Regions from separate parts of the Homo sapiens genome. Here region 1 is linked to region 2. The links come from fine-mapping of genetic effects on gene expression. A gene starts in region 2. The other region holds a variant in brackets. All regions are shown on one strand. Distances are from middle to middle.

Evidence for each region. PIP is the estimated chance that this variant, and not a neighbour inherited with it, causes the effect.
Region 1: its variant is the best candidate, but not a certain one, in a credible set for the expression of TFEB in whole blood (INTERVAL, PIP 0.51).

What each region holds. Positions count from the first base shown.
Region 1 is chr6:41,710,027-41,715,387 of GRCh38, reverse strand. All of the region lies in intron 1 of TFEB (transcription factor EB), which reads left to right. Among named protein-coding and RNA genes, the nearest start is that of MIR10398, 21 kb to the left of the region's middle. RefSeq lists enhancers at 1,136-1,859, 1,860-2,585. The variant A/G (reference allele first, on the strand shown) is at 2,460.
Region 2 is chr6:41,732,424-41,737,784 of GRCh38, reverse strand. It overlaps TFEB (transcription factor EB), which reads left to right and starts at 2,177. Exons shown (of 9, transcript NM_001271944.2): 1 at 2,177-2,435. PGC (progastricsin) reads left to right here. Exons shown (of 9, transcript NM_002630.4): 8 at 1-55; 9 at 781-1,074. The coding sequence ends at 933. MIR10398 (microRNA 10398) reads left to right here and starts at 4,175; the gene lies at 4,175-4,231. RefSeq lists silencers at 2,019-2,488, 2,529-3,058, 3,189-3,628 and enhancers at 4,279-4,388, 4,879-4,928, 4,285-4,981, 4,999-5,078.

The DNA of each region.
Region 1 (5,361 bases), 22 kb after region 2:
CATGAGACTTTTTTGGGAGTGGGGGTGTTGCTGTGTCCCTTTCCCATGTGGAGGATGGGGTCCTGTTGTCTTGAGAGTCTTGGGAAACAGCTTGGCCTGGAAGTTGGGAGGGCCAGGGCTGTGGTCCTAGCTCTCCCTAAGCTGTGTGGTCCGCACATACTCCCTGCTTCCTCCAGACTTCCGCAACATGGAGAGGCCAGAGAAAACTGTGGTTTTCAGATTCTTCGTCACAGTCCCAGAAGGTGCCTTGGGTACTATCTGGGAGCGTGGGGGAGGCCCTGGTTGGAGGCCAGGTGGGGTGGTCCTCCCACTCCCCATGCTGCTCTCCTGCTCCTCACACTGACTCCTGGTGCTCCATGGAGCGGCTTCATCCTCATGTTTTACATATCAAGGGTCCAGGCCGACTTTGTCTGAAAATGGGAGTGCTGCTGCTAACATCAACCTGGGACTTTCTGGTAGGTGACTCCCAGGCTCCTTGTCGTCTGACATTTTGTGCCCTCTGACTTGGCATGGACTCCCGGAGGAGTGCCAACCTGTATATCAGGGTCTGGAGTGCTGTGGTCACTGGATTCCCTGAGGGCTGGAGTCCCTTGGGGTGTGGAGGGCAGAGGAGGCTGCCTCCAGGGCCTCTCTGGGGCCGGGCCGCCACTCAAGGGTAGAGCTTCCAGCGCTGCCCCAGTCTCCCCGCACCCTCGGGATGGGGGTCCCCTGAAGACAATAGTCCGTCTCAGAAGCAGTGTCTCACAGGAGGGAGGGGTGATATGGGCAGAAAGGCCCTGCCAGAGTGCTGGCATGTAGTAAGTGCTCAAGAAATATTTGAAATGAATGAATGGAATGATACCATCAAGGCCGCACCTCTGATCTGGTGATGAATTTTCCCTCGCCTCCCTTTTCTTCCTTCTCGCCCCTGCTCCCTCTTCCCCATCCTCTGCTTTGTCTGACTAGCCATAAGCTACCCCAGCCTGGGTTCCAGATTCAGCCTTATTCATAATCTAGAACAAAGACACTTCCCCAATGTGAGTTACAGTTTGTTCATCTGGAAAACAAACACGATGGGCTCAGGTTCCGAAGGCCCTTTGGTTCTCACCGTCTCTTTTCTCAGGGCATGGGAGTGATTTCTCAGAGTAGGGGTGGTAGAAGCACATGCATACACACACGCACACACACAGACACGCACGCACATGCACGCACATGCATGCACATGCACACACACGCACACATGCACACGCATGCACATGCACACACACGCACACATGCACACGCACACACACACACACGTGCACACACACACGCACACACAGGACTCAGTGCAGTGGTCTTGGCTGGGAAAGGTCCTTGCCCTCTGACCAGGAAGGAGCCCTCGGAGCTGAGGTGCTCCCAGACTCAGCACTGTTTGGGGCCTACAGGATGTGGTGTGGCCCACTCTAGCTCAGGCTGGGGGGTTCCTGTGGGTGTCAGGGGATGGGTGGCCATCCAACTGTGTCCACTGGGCTGGGCTGCCACAGTGACTTTGTGTATGACCTTCAGGGAGTGTGGGTGGCATGCATCAGGACGCCTATCTGTGTCGTTATGACTGGGCGTGAGGGAGGGTGCCACATGTCTAGCCAGCCAGGGAGCAGGGCCAGTTAGCTCCTGTTCCTGGGTGCCTCCTGGCTCTGGGGAGAATAGAAAATGATTCATGCAAAGGGGCCCTCCCTGTTTTGGCCACAGCCTGAGGAGTAAGGTGGCCTGGCTGTCTGCCTTTCCCTGCTGCCCACCAGGTGCCTGAGTTCTCCCCTCCTTCCTCGCCTCAGACCGCGTTTCTCCCTGGGGGTAGGTGGCTGCCCTTCCCTGCAGCCTGACACCCTCTCAGAGACAATTAGAGGAGTAGGCTGCCCATGCCTACAGCTATAAGAGTGAGTCAGCGTAGGGACCGGAGGGGATCAAGTCTCTCTGAATCCTGCGGCCAGACGGTCCCTGCACCAGAAGAAGTGGCCCAGTGAGGCCTGGGCTGGGATGCTGTGGTCAGCACTGATACCAGCTGAGTGGCTTTCCAGCTTGAGAAGACCTGCCAGGGACAGGAGAGGACAAGCTCCACCTGCCCACCACCCGCCTCGCCATCCTGGCTGCAGCCAGCTGGTGACTCATTCTCCTGGGGAGTGAGCCAGCTCCTCTCCTGGGGTACCCCAGCACCCTGGTGCAGGCTGGGTGGCCAGGAGTCCTGGGTGCCTCAGAAAACCTGTGCTGAGCCCAGGGCCCTGGTAAGCTGGGGAGGGAGGACTGAGGCCCTCTGTATGGGGTGGGGGTCGCAGCCAGACTTCTCTTGCTCCTTCTCCTGGCCCCCGCAGACTTCACCCTCCCTCTGGCCAAAGAGGAGGCTGCAACCCCAGATTACGTAATAGGTCCAAAATGCCTCGCAAGCGAGCAGCCCAGCCAGTGGCTAGACTCAGGAGTCCCCATTTCCCAGTACCTGCCACCAG[A/G]GCAAGTTCCCATTCCCTTCCTAGGCCGGGTGGGGGAGTGGGTGGTGCTTGCTCACCCCTGGAAAGAGCTGTGCTGCCTGGGAGGGGGTGGGGAGGCTTTCTCCAGAGACATGAATTCTTGGCCTGACCCCAGATGCCAGCCTGCCTGCCCAGCTCCACTCCAGAGTAACGCTGGGTGCACACACAGCCCCATTGTGTGCCTGGGCCCCGTGCCTGCCCAGGGCCTGGCACCGGCTCTATCAACAGCAGTGGCTCCGTCAGCTCCTCAGCAGCCCCTGCCAGTGCTTGAGCCCTTGGGCCCCTGGTGAGGAGGAAGAGGGAGGACTAGTGATTAAGGGTATGAGTCCTGGGTGGGGTACCAGGACCTTTTGGATACTATCAACTATGAGAGACAAGAGCAGGGAGACTTAGTCCTGTTCTCCGAGGAGGAAACTGAGGCCCTGAGAGGCTTCAGTAACTTGCCCAAGGCCTCATGGCTAGTGAGAAGCAGAGCCGGGGTTGGAGCCCAGAGCTGTGGCTGAGCCCCTTACTGGTCTCGTCACCCAATCCCAGACCAGGACTCAGGAAAAGGCACGGTGCCCTCTTTCCACAGCCCCACTTTGGGGAGCCTCTTTCTCGAAAATATATGTCCCCAGGGTAGAAGAGGACCCTGAGACGGTAGGATCTGGAGTCCTGTAGGACCCTGGAATGGTAGGATTTGGAGTCCTGTGTGCTTGTGAGAAACATGGGGGTTCATTTTCAAGGATGGTGCTGGTGGCCAGACAGGCAGAGCAGGTTTCCAGAGCTGGAGGACAGGCTCTGTGCCTCAGTTTCCCTGCTCTACCTGCACTGTACATCCACTGTGCCTTCTAGGAGGGGATAGAAATATTGAGGTGAGGTATGGCCGGGGCTGGGGACTGGACCCCCACTGCTGAGCTCTATAGGCTGTGCGAAGCCCCCTTCACCAACCCAGAACCCCACTCAATGCCTCATGATGGTTCTATTCTAAGTTGGGTCTGAGCCATCCACCTCCTCAGCTTTCCCAGCCTGAAGAGGCCTCTGAGCTGGGTGAGCCTGCCAAGGGGGCAGCCCAGCTCGGTGCCATGAGGGCCCTGCCTCTGCCGCAGGCCCATGTTCCCCCACCCCCCTGCCAAGGTGAGGGTGCCCAGACATGACCCTTTTGGGGCCTGCCCTGTGTTTTACTTTCCAGGCTAGGCTTATTCACTCAGAGAGGCTTGACCCCCTGGGGCTTGGGGGAGCTGAAGGGCTCCTCCCTTCTCCAACAGCCCACCCTTTTGTTCCCCTGTCTGTCTTGGGCATGAAGCCTGGCTCCCTCCTTCTACACCACCTCAGCGCTCTTAGCAAAGGGACAGGGAATTCTGCAGTGACTGCAGGATTGTGAAATGCCAGGGCTGGACCTTGGGGACAGGCAGGGAAGAGAGATGCTGGAAGGGGACACCGAGACTGTGTCCTTTCATACCCCACCTGGGAGGCCAGTCTCCTCCATTCTGCTGGCGCTCATTTTCCTGCATGTATACCATTCCCACCCACCAGTCAGCACACCTTCACCTAAGGCCACAGCGGTGGGGACGTTGAGCCCAGAGGGCCATGTCCGAGTGTCCTCTACCTGGAGCCTGTGTGGGAGAGGAGGAAACCAAGGGACAGCCCTCAAGGAGTTCACACTGCAGCTGAGAAAACCAGAGAGGTGACTTCTTTGTACCTGTTTCTCATTTGTAAAATGAGTACAGTAGTATTTCCTACTTCCTAGTGTTATTGGGAAGGCCAAATGAATTAATACATGATAAAGCCAAGGGCCTGGCACTGGCTCTATCACGGCTTTAGAAGCCATCCTTGATAGATGGTTTTACAACTCAATACAAGTTTTAGTATTATCCATAGTGGTAGAAGAAATACAATATATGCTATCAGGTGATGATGTTTTTTCCAAGCTGGATTGTAAAAACCATAGGGCAAGGGCTGTCTTATTCATCCTTGTATTCCTGTTTCAGACACAGAACCAGGCTTGGAACAGAGTAAGTAATTGTGCCCAAATGGTGATTAGAGGTGGGTGAAGTCAGGGTGTGCTGTCGGGAGGAGGAGGAGACCCTGGAGCAGGGCTTCCAGAGAGGAGGAGAAGTTGGATAATCTGTGGGAGAGGAACTGGGGGAGGGTCTGGGGGCCCAGATTGGGTTGGCGTGAGAGAGCAAGGAGGTCCCCTTGGCTGCACCCAGTGTTTGTTTAGGGAGAGGGATCCTGCATGCTTTGGAGGCCCAACTAGAGCGCTTGGACTTTATCTGGTAGGTAGTGGAGAGCAATTGGGGGTGATGGAGCAGGAAAAAAATGGTCTTTCTATGTTGCTCCATCTGTTTCATTTTGTTTTTGCTCCCTTGTTCTCTGAGGAATATTTTCTTTCTTCATTTCTCCAAAGACAATAAATCCTCTCTGCTCTTCAGCCTCTTCTTTCTGATCCGTAGTTACCCCTGTCCCAAATCCCTGCATTCTGTTCTTGGCTTCTTCTCCTTGGCCATCCTGGCCTGTTGTCCCTGCTGTGCTTTTACCTGGCTTCCCCTTCCTTTATCTGGTCCCTGACCCACCTTCTCTGGAATAGGAGTTGGGTGGAGTTGGACTTGCTGAGAGATGGGTACTGGCATGGCATGACCACATGGTGGGAGCTGGTATGAAGGCAACTGAGCCAGGAGGATATCCTCTATTCTGATGTAACTCTATACATCCTTCAGGGAATGACTCTGCCCCAGTTATGTGGCTAAGGCCCATTAGAAGGATCTTACTTTATATTTGTCAACCTGTTTAATGAAAATGTAGATTTCCAAAATAGATAAATTAGGGAGTGATGGAATCTTATTTTCTCGTTTATAAATTTAGTGGAAAGATCAGCACTTTGGGAGGCTGAGGCAGGAGAATC
Region 2 (5,361 bases):
CTTCATCATCAATGGTGTGGAGTTCCCTCTGCCACCTTCCTCCTATATCCTCAGTGTAAGTCCTGGTCCCTGCAGGCTGAGCCACCATGATTGGGGTTGGGAGGAAGGGCTGGGGAGCCAGAAATGCTGGGTCTCCTGCCTTGTGCCATTTTCCGACTCCACGCTTGTACTCATTTATCTTCCCCACTCATTGATTCTAAACCCCCTTCTCTGGAACAAGGCTATGAAATAGAAGATTGTCATCTATGATCAATTATTATTAATTAGTGGGGAGAGGCACTGGGCTCTTTGTTGAGCACTTACTAGGGCAGACCACTGTGCAAAGCACTTTGCTTCATGATCCCATTTAATTGTCACAGTATTTAATGAGGGAGATACTCATTTCTGTTTTACAAATGAAAACTTGGAGGTTCAGAGAGGTTGAGTAACTGACTCAAGGCGACACAGCTAAGGTTTGAATTCAAGTTGGTTTGGCTCCAAGGTTTAACCACCAGGCTGATCTGCTCCAAATTGGGAGCAGGAGGGAGGTCTGTGGGAAGAGAAGTTTCCCATCATGGGGAGAGGAGACCCTGCTGAGGACCACGGCAGCCTGAATGTACCTGTTCCAGAAATCCTCCCACCCGCTCTGCTCTGGTGGCTCAGTTGGCCTATGAGCCCTCAAGGCAGAGACCCTGGCTCCCTCAGCTCTGCACTTGTGCTCCCAGCCCAGGGCTCAGAGCTGAGCAGGGCCCAGCTCATGTGTGGACAAATGAATGAGTGCTGCCTTTCTTTGTTGAGCAGAACAACGGCTACTGCACCGTGGGAGTCGAGCCCACCTACCTGTCCTCCCAGAACGGCCAGCCCCTGTGGATCCTCGGGGATGTCTTCCTCAGGTCCTACTATTCCGTCTACGACTTGGGCAACAACAGAGTAGGCTTTGCCACTGCCGCCTAGACTTGCTGCCTCGACACGTGGGCTCCCCTCTTCCTCTTGACCCTGCACCCTCCTAGGGCATTGTATCTGTCTTTCCACTCTGGATTCAGCCTTCTTTTTCTGGACTCTGGACTTTCTCTAATAATAAATAGTTCTTCTTTATGTTGGTCATCCTGTTGTTTTTGGAAGGGAGTTTTCCCTGAGTGGCTACAAGGTTTCCTGGTGGGTCACTGTGATTCTAAGAGAAATGGGACCTAAGGCATGGCTTGGGATGGGCTCTGTAACCCTCAGAGCTTAAAGTTCATACTTTTCCCCTGGAAAGGGAAGACAGTGGTAGCGCCATCATGGGTGGGTGGGTGGCGGGCCGGGGGAGAGTGTTCCTACTTGAGTCACAGAGAAATCGAGCCTATTTGCTGGAACCAACTCAGCAAGGGATCTTGTCCCTTTGGACTTCATCCCTGTCCTCCTCAGGAGCCTCTTAGCAAAAGATCCAGAAACCAGGAGCAACATTGTATGTGGGGAAGGAGGAGAGAGAGGAAGAAAAGGAGGAGGGGAAGGAGAAGAAAAGCAGGGGAGGGGCTGGGGGAGGAGACAGGGAAAAAGGGGCGGGGAAGAGGAGAAAGTAGAGAATGATGCCTCCGCACCCTGTGAACTTCCAACAAGGGAAGGTGACATGAAAGGAGCTCAGACAATTTCTGTCCAGCAACATGACAGCAAGCTCAGGCTGGTGAGTGGGGCGTGAATGTAGAACCCATAATGGGGGCAGGCTGCCTTCTACTGTCATATTTTACCCTGTACTTCGCCAGGCTCACCCTGGCCTTGCCCCTTATGATCGGGGCAGGGATAAAAGTGCAAGATCCAGGTCCTGCACCCTACTCCTGAAGAGAAGCTGGAATTTGCCACAGGTGGAGTTTCTATGGCAACAGCACACCATCTGGGACCCTCTCTTTCTTAGACTGCCGAAGGACAGCAGGCTGCAGGTTCCTTTTAGGGGGTCGGACAGGCTACAGAATGTATCTTAGTGAGCCCTGGTTTGGGACTTTACTGAGAGGAGAAAGAAAACTTGCAAAGAGGTAGAAGTGGATCAGAGGTTCCAAGTCAAGAGCCTCTTTCCCTGTAAGCCTTAGTCCGCTGAGCGGGACTACAAATCCCGGCGTGCCTAGCGGGACTGCAGCGAGAACTACGCTTCCCAGTGGGCGCCGAGGCAGAGCGGCTGGGAGGCGGGGCGGGTGCTGCCCTCTGCCGGGCGCGGAGGGAAGTGTGCGTGGAGTGACAGCCGGAGCCCGGGCGCCGGGCGCGGGGCTCGGTGACAGCGGAGGCGGCGGCCCGGGCGGGACGCAGGGAGCGGCCGCGGCGCCGACGGCGGCGGGAAGGGCGGACGGGGCGGGCCTCCCTGGTGGCACGGGGCCGGAGCAGGCCGGGAGCAGGTGGCGGGCACAGCTTGCGGGCCAGGCACCCGAACTTGCGACAAGTTGCCGGAGCCGCGGGGCGCGGGCGGCGGACAGATTGACCTTCAGAGCGAGGTGAGCGGGACCGGGGAGCGAGAGGCACGAGGAGGGCCCGGGACCCCCGACCCAGGCTCCCTGGCCCCTATCCCGTGGGTCCCGGAGACAGGTGGGAGGGTGGGGGATGCCGGCAGGAGAGGGAAGCAGGACCGTGCGCGCCGCCACCCACCCGCAGTCCGTCCGCCCCCGGGCGCCCAGCGCGTGGCCCGAGCGGCGCTGCCCGCCGAGCCGGGAGCCCCCTCGGCCCCTCCCTTCAGGCGCGGGCCGGGGGCGGCTTCTCCGCGACCTTATGTAACCGGGCGGGAGGGGCCGGGCGGGCATGGGCCTTCCCGGCCCGGAGCTGGGAGTCGAAGGGGCGGGAGGCGTGATGGTGAACTCGCAAGAAGTTTGAGGGACGCGCGGGCCCCGCGCCCACTCCCCCTCCACCGGACACGGCTGGGGCCGGCGATGCCTGAGAGGGGGTCGGAGGTAGGGGAGGTGTGCGGGGGCTGAGTCTGGCCAGGCCAGCGGGGGGAGTGGGAGGGCCAGAGCGGCGCCACGCCCCGGGGGCTGGGCTGATGGGGGGGCGGGTGGAAGTACCATCTCTCCCTCCCTTCCCGTCCCTTCCTCCAGCTCGGTCTCTTGAAGAAGCCGCCCCTGGCCCCGTCCCCTCGAGTCCCTGGGCAGTCTCTTTCTCCCCGTGGGTTATTCTATGACCCTGGGGAACACCAACCCCGGAGCGCTCCCTCCGTGCGCCCCGTTGTCTGCCTCCCCCCGGGTTCCCAGCTGCCTGCCCGCCCCCCGAGTTTCCCCCTCCCCCCGTCTCGGTCCCGAATCCCGGAAAACACGCCCCCTTCCCCCCGATCCCCCGAGTCCGTGCCGCCCACCCCTGGGCTGTCCCGACCAGCTCTGGCCCAGCGCGTCCGCTCGCCTCCTGGAAGGGAGCGGGCAGATGCCAGCTCGGCCCCCTCCCCGCGCGGGGTTCCGGCTTCACGCACGGCTGCCCCGAGCTGCTCCGGGCTGCGCGAGCAGGTTCGCGCCGCAGCCGCCTGGCGCGCCCCAGCCCCGCGCCCCGGGTGAGGAAGGGAGGGAGCCCGGGGCGGGGCTTGTCTGCGCGAACCCCGCTGGGCCCAGGCCCCCGCCCTCCGCTCTCCGCCAGCCCCTGGCCGCTGCGCCTTCCCCCGAACCCCCCTCAGCTCCAGCCGTCGTTCTCTCGCCTGTCTGTTCTGGGGACGGTTCAGCGCGGAGCTTCTGCACTCAACTTGAGCGCAGTTTTTGGCTTAGAGCTCGCTGGGGAAGTGCAGGTTAATTACTGCCCAGCTCCCATCCTCTGCCCTCCCCCCATCCCGAGTGAGGGGCTGCTTCATCCCTCAGGGAAAGGGACAAGACGGATGCAGGCCCCCAGTGACACCTCTGGGGTGTGGCCTCAGGCCCCTGCACCCGCCCTGGCCGAGATTCCATTGGCCCAGACCTGGCACTGTTGGGCAGCTGGGGATGAGGTTGGAGGCTGGTCTCTGGTTTCCTTCTGGGTGGACAGATGCGGATGCGCTCGGTTAGAACGCAGTTCTTGGTGCCACGACTGGGAGACAGTCCTCAGGCCCTCCCCTCAGGGAGCTCACTGTCCGGGGAGGGACAGCCAGCAATAGTTCCTGGCCGGCCAGGAGAGGCAGAGGCAGAGGAAGGGAAGGGTCAGCTGCCTTGAGGTCCCTGCCTGCTAACCTGACGGTATGCTTTCACCATGCCGGTGACCCCAGCCCCAGGACCACGAGCAACTCGCCTGGCTCCCTTCTCTCCGTCTGCCTCCTGGCCGCGGGGCCCGGAGAGCTGGGAGCCAGAGGGTGTAAATGAAGGGCAGAGCTGTTTGGGTGACTCCATGCTCTGCTTCTCCCCGAGGGAAGCCAATGGTGCTTACCATTTACAAGGCTTGTTACAGCTGCAGGGTTATTTTGTCCTCAACTCAGCTCTGGGAGACGGAGCCAAATGGGGACCCAGGTATCTTGGTTCCGGGTGCCCTGGAAGGAGTTCAGGGGATAGGGCAGGGGACACCCTAGGTGGGCACTGAATCTAGGGAGAGCCAACTGGGCTTTTACGGGCTAATGGCCTGGTGACTCACAGTCAGAGGTGGGCAGGGAGTGGGCCAGGGCAGGCAGGAGCCCTTCCAGGGTCCCACGTGCGCTGTCACAGGCCTCCTCAGCCTGTTTCTGGAAAGCTGAGAAGTAGGTGGAAGGGGACTCCCACCCCTCAAGTCTGGCTGCCCTTTGAGGGTCTAGCTCTTGGCCCTGAGCCCTCCTGGGGCTCTGTTTATGACTGTAATTGCATCATTAGCCAGAGTTAATAGAGTTACTTAGCACCTGCCCCCACAGGGAGTAGCCCAGCCACCCCCTGGGTTCTGTCTCTTCCTTTTCAAAGTCAACTCGGTTTCTGCAGGCAACAGGGGTTTCCCCAACCACAGCTGTCATGAAAACCAGGTTGGGCCTTTGTCCTGGGGATGGAGGGCAGTCAGCACTTGGGGCCTGGCTTGGGGCTGCCCTGGAGATGACCATGGAAATTGGGTTGGCCTCCTCTGATCGGAGGGTGGGAGTTCAGGGTTCCCAGAGCTGCCAGAAATGTTCACGTCCCAGGACGCAGTGAACATATATGCATGTACAGTGTGGATCCTCATCTGAGAGGAGGGAGATGAAAACACACCCACCTCACAGGCTGTTGTGAGGACTAAGGGTGCGGCAGTGCCTGGTACATGGTGAGTACATGATGTTGCTTTCTGGGTTGGTGTGGGGTTTATGTAATGGTTGTGAGTTTGTGTGTGTGGTTAAAGTGTCTAGGAATGTGGGTAGAGATGAACTGTGCATGTGTGTCTATGAGAGTGTAACAATAAAACAAGATTATATTAATAGAATATTCATCTCTTCTTTTATGCTATACTAGAACAATATTATAATAAGATTGATTATACAATAGTTGCCAA